Linked DNA regions of Homo sapiens. The protein of the gene in region 2 interacts with the protein of the main gene of each other region in a pairwise test. Each region holds a gene or a part of one and is shown on either strand. Other genes may lie near its edges.

Region 1 (7,275 bases), on a different chromosome or scaffold from region 2:
ACAGAGGAACTAAAAACCTAGAGAATGAGTTGCAGTTTGGCAGATGGGAGGATGGGGATGGAGAATTGCAGAAACAGTGTATGTGAGGAAGACCTATTGGGAGCACAGAGACCAGTAGTTTTCAGGGGAAACCTTTACCAGCTAGATGTATGCGGAGGGCTCATGTGTGGCAGAGGGAGCTGACACTGGACAGCTCAACAGGAATCATTGCCGTGAAGGGTTTTCTATACCTAAAAAGGGGTTTAGATTTTACTAAACCCCTTTTTTGAAGAATTCTGAGCCTTTTCACAACCAGGACACCAGAAGGAGTAGTCTGAATGTCCTGTCTTTACTTTCTCACTTCCTTTGACTCCTCAGCCTATTGTAATTGGAGTTGCAGTCAAATCACTCCATTAAAGCCGTTAGTTAAGGGGCATTCCAGTTACTAAATGCTTTTCGGCCATCATGTCACACAGTGAAAGGGCAACAGCTTTGGCCCTGCTGACTCCTTTCTTTCCTGAACTGGTCTCTTCCTTGGTTTCTCTGGTTGTACTTCTCTTTCTTGGGGCTATTTTTCAATAGAAGCCTTTTCAGCCTTTTCTTTAGCATTGCCCATCTTTAAGTCTTTAAAGTCCGGAGTTTCATTCTTGATGGTCTTCTATTGTCATTCTATATTCTCACCCTGGGAAAATTCACATATCTTCTTGCCTTCCACCCCAATTACTCCTAAATCTTGTTATTTACTTCATATTTTTTTAAGTTCCAGATCTATATATTTACTGTCTACTAAAAAGCTGTCTTCATTAGGATAGTGCATAGACGTCTCAGACTCCATATGTCTGAAAAGTGAATCCATCATCTTTATCCCAACCTAATACCACTTGTAAATTTCCTGTCTTGGTGAATACATTATCAGCTACCTAGATGCTGAAACCAGTAACCTGTGGGTCCTTTTAGATCTTTTCTTTTCTCCCTTATGTGCCATAGATAATCAACTGCAAGTTATTTTAGTTCTACCTTACAGTTTCTCAAATATGTCTCCTTTTCCCTTCTGTTGTTGGAGTACTTCAGAAAGTCATCATCTCTCTCATCTGGATTATTGTTACCCTGCCTCTAACACTGCTTCCCCTTCCAACTAATTCTGTTCAGCAAATCTGATTGTGTCATCATGCGACCCCCTCTCCCACTGATTGGTGTAAGGCGAGAACTCAAACTTGATTTGTCGTTAAATCCTTTACTACCCATGTCCCAGGTGTCCCAGGTCTAGCTCTCTAGCTCCCATTCTCCTTCCATACTTCTGATAATGACTGCTCCTTTTTCTGAACTCCTAAACTGAATGCTTCTACCACCCCTGGATACTTACTCATACTACATGCCTTCTGCTGTTCTTTAACTGTTTATGTGTATGTATTTTATGGACCAAATGAGGGGACCTTCTCCAGGGCTTGGACCATATCCTCCAGAAAGGGTAAGACAGTATTTTTGTGGACATAGTATGCAGTCAATAAATATTTATTGGATTACATTCACTAATAAGTCTTTCTCTCCTTATATATTATTTATTAATAATGTCAATTTCTCTTTTAAAATCGTCTCTGAGTTTTTCATTTAACTGCATGAAGGCTTCACATTTTTCTAGTAACTTTGTAGCATTGCTTTGCTAATTAATAGGGCTTAACTTTTCATTTTCACCTAGCAAATCTGTTTCTTCATAGGTAAGGAATTCTTGCAATGTGCATGGTGGTAATAACAGCTATTTTTGGAAATATCAGCAGGAGTGTGCTAAATACTGTCAAATACTCTTAGATTCTTCTATCATTAGAAAGGCTTATAAACTTAAAAGTATCACAGCTTTAACTGGATTGAAGATAGGTTAATTTGATTCTTAGCTTTTCAAATGCAGACTTTCAAGAAAAAGGATTTTTTGGTTCAGTTTAAGACAAGACATTAGGAACTGATGTGTCTTATCGCCTTAGAACATGAAGGATTCTTTTGTTACTGACATAGGCATTGACATGTAGAGAAGAACTCCTGACTCTTCTTCTGTCTCTCCTTCCACTGGTATGGAAGATACCTGTCCAAGAAGAAAAGGCAACAGGTATGCTTTTTCCCTTTATCATATCACTTGTGTTATCAAAATTTCATAGAAAAGTTACTTCTGCCTGAATGTTTGATTCTGATTCAGATTCAGAACACTATATGTTATTGTGATTTATTCATACTAAATATGAAAAATTATTTAGGCAAACACATTTTTCCTTCAATAATACAAAAACCATGGTGCTTCTTGGGGGAAGTACTTGAATGTACTGATGATTAGAAAATGTATAAAGAAGCAGAAACACTTATCAGAAGGAGTGAGTCTAGGTGTGCAGCATAACATCAGAAAAATGGATAGTGAAAAGTTGGAAGTGAAAAGTCTGAATAAAGAAATTAAAGTTTCTTTGCTTATTTTAAAGACTGCTTTCTATTACCAGTATTCTATAAGTGACTTTTGCAGTATTTGTTTTAGCTTAGTTTTTCTAGTGTTGCCTTTAAAGTATAATTTTTTTTTTTTTTTTTTAGGCAGAGTCTCACTCTGTCACCCAGGTTGGAGGGCAGTGGAGTGATCTCGGCTCACTGCAACCTCAGCCTCCCGAGTTCAAGCAATTCTTGTGCCTCAGCCTCCTGAGTAGATGGGATTACAGTCGTGCACCACCATGCCAGACTAATTTTTGCATTTTAGTACATACAGATGGGATTTCACCATGTTGGCCAGGCTGGTCTCAAACTCCTGACCTCAAGTAATCTGCCCACCACAGCCTCCCAAAGTGCTGGGATTACAGGCATGAGCCACCGTGCCCAGCCTAAAGGATATATTTAATATTTTGTTTCAAGCTTGGGTAGAATTATTCTATGTAAGGTCGATAGATATTTTTAATTTATGATTTTGAAGAAATCATATGTCTATAAAGTACATGAAACTTTAAATGTTTCATTGGAGAGATTAATAGTTTTCCTCTTGACCCTTTCTTGTGACATGTTTGTGAGATGTTTGAAGATCTCTCAGGTTAAAAAAAAAATTATTGTATTTTAATTCCTGTATTTTTAGTGAATTTCATGGAGCTTTTTTTAAGGAGGTATCTAAGGTTTTGTAATACTGTTTTTCTGCTTATTTATTGATTCACTAACTCTCTGCTTTTATTTTTTTCTGAGTTTGCAGAATTCACAAATTGTTAATCACTTAAGAAATCTGATTAATGCTCTTTGGGGGAAGTTGTCTTCATTGTCTGCATCTTTTGCTTGGGTGGAATTTGTCAGACTCCTTTTAATTTCTCCTCTTCCCATCTGGTTTGCTTTCCCTGTCTTAGTAAAGCACAGATTTTTTTATTTACAGATTTTAATTTATTCACTCTAAATTACAGCTACTTTTTTATATAGCTCTTACTACATACTGCAAAGAGAAAGACTGATCTAATTATCTTTTTAGTTAAAGGGAGAATTCATTCATTTCCCCTGTGAAGTATTTACTGAGTGTTGACCATACGCCAGGCCCTATCTAGGCACCGGGGATGAAATAATAGTGTCTATACCTGGTGCCTAGTTCAGTGCTGAAACATTTGAGAAATAATTTGAATAAAGAATTATTTAAACCTCAGTTTTAGAGAACATTTGGCATATAGTGTATGATTTTGAAATAATTTTAGAAAAATCTTAAAGTAGTTAAATTATATCAGGTCTATGAATACTATTTTTGAGAATATAATACATCCTTACATTTTAATTAGTGGTACTATGGGAAGAGATTTGTAAATGGTGTGAACAACAGCACTAAATACCAGATAATCTACAGCATCTCTTATGTTGAAGTTAGAATATAATATATAGTTTTAAATCAGATTTACTTTCTTAACTCTGTTCTCTTTTGTTTGTTGTTGTTGTTTTGAGACAGAGTCTCACTCTGTCACCTGGGCTGGAGTGCAGTGGCACGATCTCATCTCACTGCAACCTCTGCCTCCCAGGTTCAAGAGATTCTCCTGCCTCAGGCTCCCAAGTAGCTGGGATTACAGGCGTGCACCACCACATCTGACTAATTTTTGTATTTTTACTAGAGACAGGGTTTCACCGTGTTGGCCAGGCTGGTCTCAAACTCTTGACCTCAAGTGATCCCACCCGCCTCAGTCTCCCAAAGTGCTGGGATTACAGGCATAAGCCACCTCACCCAGCCTCTCTTTTGTTGTTTTAAAAATCAGTTTGTATCCTTTGAAGTAATGTCAGCTAGTGTTTAGAGTAAGTATAGGTGTGCCTCTGTTTTGTTGTTTTAAAAATCAATTTGTATCCTTTGAACTAATGTCAGCTAGTGTTTAGAGTAAGGATAAGTGTGAGAGGAGGTAACCCAGAGATATGACATAAATGAAGGAAATCAGCCCTGCAGCAAAATACATTGAGGATAAACTCCTTTAGTGGGTTTAAGATAAATAAGAGGGCTGTCACCTTAAAATTGAGTTTTAAAACATATTGAGGTATTCTAAGCCTTCTTTTTTCATTCCATTAGATTTTAACCTACCGCTCTCAGCAGATATAATCCTGACCAAAGAAAAGAACTCAAGTTCACAAAGATCCACTCAGGAAAAATTACATTTAGAAGGAAGTGCCCTGTCTAGTCAGGTTTCTGCAAAAGTAAATGTTTTTCGAAAAAGCAGACGACAGCGTAAAATTACCCATCGCTATTCTGTAAGAGATGCAAGAAAGACACAGCTCTCCACCTCAGATTCAGAAGCCAATTCAGATGAAAAAGGCATAGCAATGAATAAGCATAGAAGGCCCCATCTGCTGCATCATTTTTTAACATCGTTTCCTAAACAAGACCACCCCAAAGCTAAACTTGACCGCTTAGCAACCAAAGAACAGACTCCTCCAGATGCTATGGCTTTGGAAAATTCCAGAGAGATTATTCCAAGACAGGGGTCAAACACTGACATTTTAAGTGAGCCAGCTGCCTTGTCTGTTATCAGTAACATGAACAATTCTCCATTTGACTTATGTCATGTTTTGTTATCTTTATTAGAAAAAGTTTGTAAGTTTGACGTTACCTTGAATCATAATTCTCCTTTAGCAGCCAGTGTAGTGCCCACACTAACTGAATTCCTAGCAGGCTTTGGGGACTGCTGCAGTCTGAGCGACAACTTGGAGAGTCGAGTAGTTTCTGCAGGTTGGACCGAAGAACCGGTGGCTTTGATTCAAAGGATGCTCTTTCGAACAGTGTTGCATCTTCTGTCAGTAGATGTTAGTACTGCAGAGATGATGCCAGAAAATCTTAGGAAAAATTTAACTGAATTGCTTAGAGCAGCTTTAAAAATTAGAATATGCCTAGAAAAGCAGCCTGACCCTTTTGCACCAAGACAAAAGAAAACACTGCAGGAGGTTCAGGAAGATTTTGTGTTTTCAAAGTATCGTCATAGAGCCCTTCTTTTACCTGAGCTTTTGGAAGGAGTTCTTCAGATTCTGATCTGTTGTCTTCAAAGTGCAGCTTCAAATCCCTTCTACTTCAGTCAAGCCATGGATTTGGTTCAAGAATTCATTCAGCATCATGGATTTAATTTATTTGAAACAGCAGTTCTTCAAATGGAATGGCTGGTTTTAAGAGATGGAGTTCCTCCCGAGGCCTCAGAGCATTTGAAAGCCCTAATAAATAGTGTGATGAAAATAATGAGCACTGTCAAAAAAGTGAAATCAGAGCAACTTCATCATTCGATGTGTACAAGAAAAAGGCACAGACGATGTGAATATTCTCATTTTATGCATCATCACCGAGATCTCTCAGGTCTTCTGGTTTCGGCTTTTAAAAACCAGGTTTCCAAAAACCCATTTGAAGAGACTGCAGATGGAGATGTTTATTATCCTGAGCGGTGCTGTTGCATTGCAGTGTGTGCCCATCAGTGCTTGCGCTTACTACAGCAGGCTTCCTTGAGCAGCACTTGTGTCCAGATCCTATCGGGTGTTCATAACATTGGAATATGCTGTTGTATGGATCCCAAATCTGTAATCATTCCTTTGCTCCATGCTTTTAAATTGCCAGCACTGAAAAATTTTCAGCAGCATATATTGAATATCCTTAACAAACTTATTTTGGATCAGTTAGGAGGAGCAGAGATATCACCAAAAATTAAAAAAGCAGCTTGTAATATTTGTACTGTTGACTCTGACCAACTAGCCCAATTAGAAGAGACACTGCAGGGAAACTTATGTGATGCTGAACTCTCCTCAAGTTTATCCAGTCCTTCTTACAGATTTCAAGGGATCCTGCCCAGCAGTGGATCTGAAGATTTGTTGTGGAAATGGGATGCTTTAAAGGCTTATCAGAACTTTGTTTTTGAAGAAGACAGATTACATAGTATACAGATTGCAAATCACATTTGCAATTTAATCCAGAAAGGCAATATAGTTGTTCAGTGGAAATTATATAATTACATATTTAATCCTGTGCTCCAAAGAGGAGTTGAATTAGCACATCATTGTCAACACCTAAGCGTTACTTCAGCTCAAAGTCATGTATGTAGCCATCATAACCAGTGCTTGCCTCAGGACGTGCTTCAGATTTATGTAAAAACTCTGCCTATCCTGCTTAAATCCAGGTTTGTATGTGTGTGGGTGGCGGCGGGGGCGGGGGTTGTTGAGCATGTCTAGATCTTTTTCATTGGATGCTTTCAAGTGAGTGATAAATTGTATGCATTTAAACTTCTAACACTGATATCTCCAGGGCTTTGGCAGCAGTGTGATCGTATTTACTCTTTATTCTTTCCTAGGATTTAATTTCAATTTGTCAACAAAAAATGTTCTCCTTCCATGTCAGATTTGTTTTAACCATTTGTTTATGTATGTATGCATTTTTTACTGAGCTGTTTATAGAGAAGAGGATACAGCCATTGATTTTAATTTCTCAACAAAAAGAAAAGTTTTAGATATACAACTGAGAAAAACGTAGATGAAACACAGATATCCAAGAGCAGGGCAAGTTTAATTACTTTATATTTCCTTGATAGAATATTATTGGCCATTGAAAATGTTTACAAAGATCATATTGGAATATGAGAAAATGATTATAATATCTTATGGGTAAAATATAAACAATTAAAATAGTGTTCACTTATTTACAACTATGTAAAATATGTATTACATGTAAAATAATACATAAAATGATTATTGAGGCAGAGGCACTAATGGGATTATTAATTTTAAAATATTATATTTACATTTATAACCTCTGCAATATATGTAGAAAAATTAGAAAATATAGATAAACAAAAATAAGAATAT
Region 2 (7,275 bases):
AGGTAATGAAGGTGAATGTGCTTAGTATGTGGCCAGATACAGAGTAGGTGCTCTGTAATATTAGTTACAGTGATTGCCTGCTAGGAGTGTAGGCTGGTGCTAAAACATGACCCAGGTCTAGAAAGACACACAATCCACCCCTAACTCCTTTCCTCGTCTGCCACTCCTTATCCCCAGGATTACTTGTTCTTTTATGACTGCTTTTCTCCTTCAAAGCTTCTCATTGCTAGTTTTTATCAGATTTCAGGTGATTAAAAAAGAAGGGCATACTATGATTGCTGTGTTCCTCAGGTACATTCCTGTGTTTCTCTGACCTTTTGGATCCCCTAACCTAACTGACTTGGTGAACAGGTTCTGTGATGGGGAAGGGAGATGGACACCCTTCTCTAGGAGGGCTGGCAAAAATACACCAATCACAAATAGTCATCTTTGTTGTGCTTTTTGTTTAAGATTGTTTTCCTCTTTTGCTATGGTGGGTGTTGTTCTTCGGATTTTTTTTTTTTTTTGGTTGATAGTATTTTAAAACCAGTCTACATAACAACTAAAAAATGTGGGAAAATAGCTGTAGTTGAAAAAAAAAAAAAAAAAAAAAAGGCCGGGCATGGTGGCTCACGCCTGTAATCCCAACACTTTAGGAGGCTGAGGCAGGTGGATCATCTGAGGTCAGGAGTTCGAGACCAGCCTGGTCAACATGGTGAAACTCCGTCTCTACTAAAAATACAAAAATTAGCCAGGTGTGGTGGTGTGCGCTTGTAATCCCAGCTACTTGGGAGGCTGAGGCAGGAGAATCGCTTGAACCTGGGAGGCGGAGGTGGCAGTGAGCTGAGATCATGCCATAGCACCTCCAGCCTGGGGAACAAGAGCAAAGATCCATCTCAAAAAAAAAAAAAAGGAAAAAAAAAGAAAACTAGTTGGCCGGGCACAGTGGCTCACGCCTGTAATCCCAGCACTTGGGAAGGCCGAGGCAGGCAGATCACCTGAGGTCAGTAGTTCGAGACCACCCTGACTAACATGGTGAAACCCTGTCTCTACTAAAAATACAAAAAATTAGCCGGGTGTGGTGGTGCATGCCTGTAATCCCAGCTATTCAGGAGGCTGAGGCAGGAGAATCGCTTGAACCTGGGAGGCAGAGGTTGCAGTGAGTGAGATCACGCCACTGCACTCCAGCCTGGGCAACAAGAGTGAAACTCTGTCTCAAAAAAAAAAAAAAAAAAAAAAAAAAAGACAAGTCTACTGGGCAGAGCATCAGTTGAAAGTTCAGAAGATAGGCTCTGTCCCAGCAATTTTGTGATTCTAAGTAAATTGTGAAGTTTCCTGGAAAGGTTAGACTCACCCCTTACTGCCTGCATCAGTATGGTTCCGTGGAGGTGAGTGAGAATTACTGTGTTTCTTGGGAAAAAATACACTACAGAATATGGACATGCCGTTTACCTAGCAGGCCTCCAACTCAGAATAGAATACATGGGTAAGCTTAGTCTGTTCCCACTGGAGCTAGCAGCACTTAATTCAGGAAGAAAGACCTACTGATGTTAGTGGGTTTAAAGGTCAATCACAAGAAGAGCGCACACACATCAGTGGAAAGGAAGAAAACAGTAAGAAAATACCATTTTTGCTCTCAAAAGATCTTACAATCAGTAATTTGGAGGGACTTGACACTTAGCAAGAAATACAAACAAGTGCAAATGAATACAGCTGGCTATAGGGATTTGGATAAAGATAGATACCTGCTGATAGACAGATACGGATGGATTGGCTGTGAGAAACTGTGTAACCCAGTCTACACCAAGTAGGAGGATAGGCTTAAAAACTGGTACATCTGTGTTGTTTGCTCACGGATATTTTGAGTCTTTAATCATTCATGTGAAAACCCTGACTTTTCCTCTAGCCTTAGGGAGCTCAAGTACTAGAGAATGGGTCCTTTATGGGGCTCTCAAAAATGAAGTTCTACAATTTGGGGCTACCTAGGTTTAGTCTTGGGATTGGTAGGGCTGTGTTCCTTTGTATTATAGAATGGGACATTCTTCTTCTACCTACTCTGATGTGAGAAAAGATTCTTTTCATATCTCTGTGACTGATCTAGGCCTTCTGAGAATTCTCCCCAGCAACTTCTGAGGAGAATACAGCAAAGTATAGAAGAAAGAGCATGGGCTTTGAAGTCACCGACATGGGTTTGATTCTGGCTCTGTCACTGGTTCCTCACTGTGTGAGGTTGGGCTAGTCACAATCACAATCTTTGAGCCTCAGTTCCCTCACCTATATAATGAGGGTAATAATGCTTACCATTCAGGGTTGGTTGTAAATATTAAATGAAATCATGTATGTGAAGGGCTTGATATAAAGAAGGTATTCAATAAATTCATACTTCAATGTCATTTCTTTTTTCTTTTTTTTTTTTTGAGACAGAGTCTTACTCTGTCACCCAGGCTGGAGTGCAGTGGCATGATCTCGGCTCACTGCAACCTCTGCCTCCCAGGTTCAAGTGATTTGCTTGCCTCAGCCTCCTGAGTAGCTGGGATTACAGGCACGTGCCACCACGCCTGGCTGGGTTTCACCATGTTGGCTAGGCTGGTCTTGAACTCCTGACCTTGTGGTCCATCCACCTAGGCCTCCCAAAGTGCTGGAATTATAGACATGAGCCACCATGCCCCGCTCCATTTCTTTATGTTCCTTTGTAAGGCTCCGTGGAATGTGTGTGTTCACAAATATCCTTTAGGGATCATGAAGGGTAAACTGTGTGATCTCCTGGATTGGGGCTTGTAGGTACATCCGAATTTTCTGCCCTCTACAGAGATGAAAGAGATTATACTTCGAGCAGAATCTGCCTCCCTTTTAGATAGCTAAGGTAGCCCATGGGGCATGCCAGCAATGTCTTGTGGTATCTGTACCTCTTGGCCCAAAGGCTTAGGGTTGGGCCGCTTGCTCAGTTCTCTGACAAGCAGAATAGTATTCCTTTGTGACTCTGTTCTCCAAGTTGGAGACTCTGATGGTTTCCTTCTAACAGGTTTCATTGAAAACAGATCCTGCAAAAGTTCCAGGTGCCCACACTGGAAACTTGGAGATCCTGCTTCCCAGACCACAGCTGTGGGGAACTTGGGGTGGAGCAGAGAAGTTTCTGTATTCAGCTGCCCAGGCAGAGGAGAATGGGGTCTCCACAGCCTGAAGAATGAAGACACGACAGAATAAAGACTCGGTGAGTTAAAATGAGAGACATGAAAGATGAGGGGCGGGGCAGGCAAGCTAGGAGGAAGGGTCTAGAGAAGAAGAACAAATAATGTGCACCATAAAGTTAGGTGCAATGTAAAGAACAGTGTTACCTACCTCCTTCCTCCTCCTGTAGATGTCAATGAGGAGTGGACGGAAGAAAGAGGCCCCTGGGCCCCGGGAAGAACTGAGATCGAGGGGCCGGGCCTCCCCTGGAGGGGTCAGCACGTCCAGCAGTGATGGCAAAGCTGAGAAGTCCAGGCAGACAGCCAAGGTATTCTGTCCTCAGGTCCTCCCACAGGATGCCCAAGGCACTGGGGCTGAGGGTGTGTGTGTGTTGTGGGGGAACTTCCTGTTTGGCAGAGGGTAACGGTGGAGCTCGGGAGGTAGGGAAAAGACAGGAATTTTCTCTTTCTCTCTAACAGAAGGCCCGAGTAGAGGAAGCCTCCACCCCAAAGGTCAACAAGCAGGGTCGGAGTGAGGAGATCTCAGAGAGTGAAAGTGAGGAGACCAATGCACCAAAAAAGACCAAAACTGAGGTGGGAAACCCTTGTCGCCATCCTGACCCATCTTGTGACCATTCTTTTCTCAGACTTGCTTATGCTCACTATTCTTAGCTGGATCTCTCCTGGGACATAAGAGAAAGGCCAGATCATAGTGCTTATGAGAGCAGTTCTGTCTATAATATGCCAGAGAGATTCTTAGAGCTTTGACAGACCACCAGATGACCAGGCAGGGCCAAAGGGGACCAGAAGAGTTGGGGGATTCTAGTCTCTGGGTGAGAAGTCTTAGTCGGAGGAACAAATAAATCTTAAGGAAAATGCAGAAGTGGTCTTTCTTTTTTATTGTTTTTTTTTGTTTGTTTGTTTTTGAGACAGTTTCGCTCTGTCACCCAGGCTGGAGTACAGTGGCACAATCTCAGCTCATTGCAACCTCCGCCTCCTGGGTTCAAACAATTGTGCCTCAGCCTCCCGAGTGGCTGGGATTATAGGCATGAGCCACCATGCCCGGCTAATTTTTGTATTTTTGGTAGAGACAGTGTTTCACCATGTTGGCCAGGCTGGTTTGGAACTCCTGGCATCAAGTGATCCGCCCGCTTCAGCTTCCCAAAGTGCTGGGATTACAGGTGTAAGCCTCTGTGCCCGGCCAGAAGTGGTATAAAAACCAAGGGCTTGGGGGATGGAGGATGGTTAAAGTGGTGGTTATGAGATGGTGGAAGACAGGGAGTTGGAGTCAGCTGTGGGTAGAGACAAGGTGCTTGAGATGGATCCTTGAGGAAGGAATAGGGTTTTACAGGCGGGAAACAAGACTGGCTGCTAGGGAGCAGCCAAGAATGTGAGGAAAGTGAGAAATCCCCAGATGGTAAGAGGTGGGCTTGAGCAAGAGTACTCACCACATCACAGTACAACAGTGTGCTGTGAGGGGAAATGATTTTATGCAAGAGAGCCCCAAATCTCAGGGAAGCAGGAAAGGAAAAGAGAAAAAATGAGTCTTCCCTTTTCTACAGCAGGAACTCCCTCGGCCACAGTCTCCCTCCGATCTGGATAGCTTGGACGGGCGGAGCCTTAATGATGATGGCAGCAGCGACCCTAGGGATATCGACCAGGACAACCGAAGCACGTCCCCCAGTATCTACAGCCCTGGAAGTGTGGAGAATGACTCTGACTCATCTTCTGGCCTGTCCCAGGGCCCAGCCCGCCCCTACCACCCACCTCCACTCTTTCCTCCTTCCCCTCAACCGCCAGACAGCACCCCTCGACAGCCAGAGGCTAGCTTTGAACCCCATCCTTCTGTGACACCCACTGGATATCATGCTCCCATGGAGCCCCCCACATCTCGAATGTTCCAGGCTCCTCCTGGGGCCCCTCCCCCTCACCCACAGCTCTATCCTGGGGGCACTGGTGGAGTTTTGTCTGGACCCCCAATGGGTCCCAAGGGGGGAGGGGCTGCCTCATCAGTGGGGGGCCCTAATGGGGGTAAGCAGCACCCCCCACCCACTACTCCCATTTCAGTATCAAGCTCTGGGGCTAGTGGTGCTCCCCCAACAAAGCCGCCTACCACTCCAGTGGGTGGTGGGAACCTACCTTCTGCTCCACCACCAGCCAACTTCCCCCATGTGACACCGAACCTGCCTCCCCCACCTGCCCTGAGACCCCTCAACAATGCATCAGCCTCTCCCCCTGGCCTGGGGGCCCAACCACTACCTGGTCATCTGCCCTCTCCCCACGCCATGGGACAGGGTATGGGTGGACTTCCTCCTGGCCCAGAGAAGGGCCCAACTCTGGCTCCTTCACCCCACTCTCTGCCTCCTGCTTCCTCTTCTGCTCCAGCGCCCCCCATGAGGTTTCCTTATTCATCCTCTAGTAGTAGCTCTGCAGCAGCCTCCTCTTCCAGTTCTTCCTCCTCTTCCTCTGCCTCCCCCTTCCCAGCTTCCCAGGCATTGCCCAGCTACCCCCACTCTTTCCCTCCCCCAACAAGCCTCTCTGTCTCCAATCAGCCCCCCAAGTATACTCAGCCTTCTCTCCCATCCCAGGCTGTGTGGAGCCAGGGTCCCCCACCACCTCCTCCCTATGGCCGCCTCTTAGCCAACAGCAATGCCCATCCAGGCCCCTTCCCTCCCTCTACTGGGGCCCAGTCCACCGCCCACCCACCAGTCTCAACACATCACCATCACCACCAGCAACAGCAACAGCAGCAGCAGCAGCAGCAGCAGCAGCAGCAGCAGCAGCAGCAGCATCACGGAAACTCTGGGCCCCCTCCTCCTGGAGCATTTCCCCACCCACTGGAGGGCGGTAGCTCCCACCACGCACACCCTTACGCCATGTCTCCCTCCCTGGGGTCTCTGAGGCCCTACCCACCAGGGCCAGCACACCTGCCCCCACCTCACAGCCAGGTGTCCTACAGCCAAGCAGGCCCCAATGGCCCTCCAGTCTCTTCCTCTTCCAACTCTTCCTCTTCCACTTCTCAAGGGTCCTACCCATGTTCACACCCCTCCCCTTCCCAGGGCCCTCAAGGGGCGCCCTACCCTTTCCCACCGGTGCCTACGGTCACCACCTCTTCGGCTACCCTTTCCACGGTCATTGCCACCGTGGCTTCCTCGCCAGCAGGCTACAAAACGGCCTCCCCACCTGGGCCCCCACCGTACGGAAAGAGAGCCCCGTCCCCGGGGGCCTACAAGACAGCCACCCCACCCGGATACAAACCCGGGTCGCCTCCCTCCTTCCGAACGGGGACCCCACCGGGCTATCGAGGAACCTCGCCACCTGCAGGCCCAGGGACCTTCAAGCCGGGCTCGCCCACCGTGGGACCTGGGCCCCTGCCACCTGCGGGGCCCTCAGGCCTGCCATCGCTGCCACCACCACCTGCGGCCCCTGCCTCAGGGCCGCCCCTGAGCGCCACGCAGATCAAACAGGAGCCGGCTGAGGAGTATGAGACCCCCGAGAGCCCGGTGCCCCCAGCCCGCAGCCCCTCGCCCCCTCCCAAGGTGGTAGATGTACCCAGCCATGCCAGTCAGTCTGCCAGGTGAGCGGCCAGGTGGGGCGGAGGTGGGCCTGGAAAGGGGACGACGACAAGGCGGCGACGAGAGAGGGAGTAGCAGGGAGGGGCCTTGCGCTGGTGTAGTGTTTTAGAAAAGCACGCCCCTCTCCTCCGTCCAGGCCTAGTGGCCAGTGAGGCCCGCAGCAGCTCACAGCCTGCAGGGGTGGTTTTGAGGCGGGGGCTACAAGCACTCGCCGGGGCCGCGGCGCTGCGGGCTCCATCGGGCAGCTCGCACCGCCTGAGCGCCCGCTGCTTCCACGCCCGGCAGGTTCAACAAACACCTGGATCGCGGCTTCAACTCGTGCGCGCGCAGCGACCTGTACTTCGTGCCACTGGAGGGCTCCAAGCTGGCCAAGAAGCGGGCCGACCTGGTGGAGAAGGTGCGGCGCGAGGCCGAGCAGCGCGCGCGCGAAGAAAAGGAGCGCGAGCGCGAGCGGGAACGCGAGAAAGAGCGCGAGCGCGAGAAGGAGCGCGAGCTTGAACGCAGCGTGGTGAGTGCGTCACTGCCTGCGCCACCGCCTTCTTTCCCTCTTTCCT

Evidence for each region.
Region 1: the proteins of ATN1 (region 2) and LYST interact in a two-hybrid assay, tested with the Homo sapiens proteins (one study listed by BioGRID).

What each region holds. Positions count from the first base shown.
Region 1 is NC_000001.11:235,807,773-235,815,047, reverse strand, and holds part of LYST (lysosomal-trafficking regulator), read left to right. Parts: intron 1-1,986; coding exon 1,987-2,077; intron 2,078-4,513; coding exon 4,514-6,593; exon of another isoform or gene 6,594-6,943; coding exon of another isoform or gene 6,944-6,969; intron 6,970-7,275. UniProt on the Homo sapiens protein: Adapter protein that regulates and/or fission of intracellular vesicles such as lysosomes. Might regulate trafficking of effectors involved in exocytosis.
Region 2 is NC_000012.12:6,930,839-6,938,113, forward strand, and holds part of ATN1 (atrophin-1), read left to right. Parts: intron 1-3,001; 5' UTR 3,002-3,163; coding exon 3,164-3,190; intron 3,191-3,337; coding exon 3,338-3,475; intron 3,476-3,626; coding exon 3,627-3,740; intron 3,741-4,708; coding exon 4,709-6,723; intron 6,724-7,006; coding exon 7,007-7,229; intron 7,230-7,275. UniProt on the Homo sapiens protein: Transcriptional corepressor. Recruits NR2E1 to repress transcription. Promotes vascular smooth cell (VSMC) migration and orientation. Corepressor of MTG8 transcriptional repression.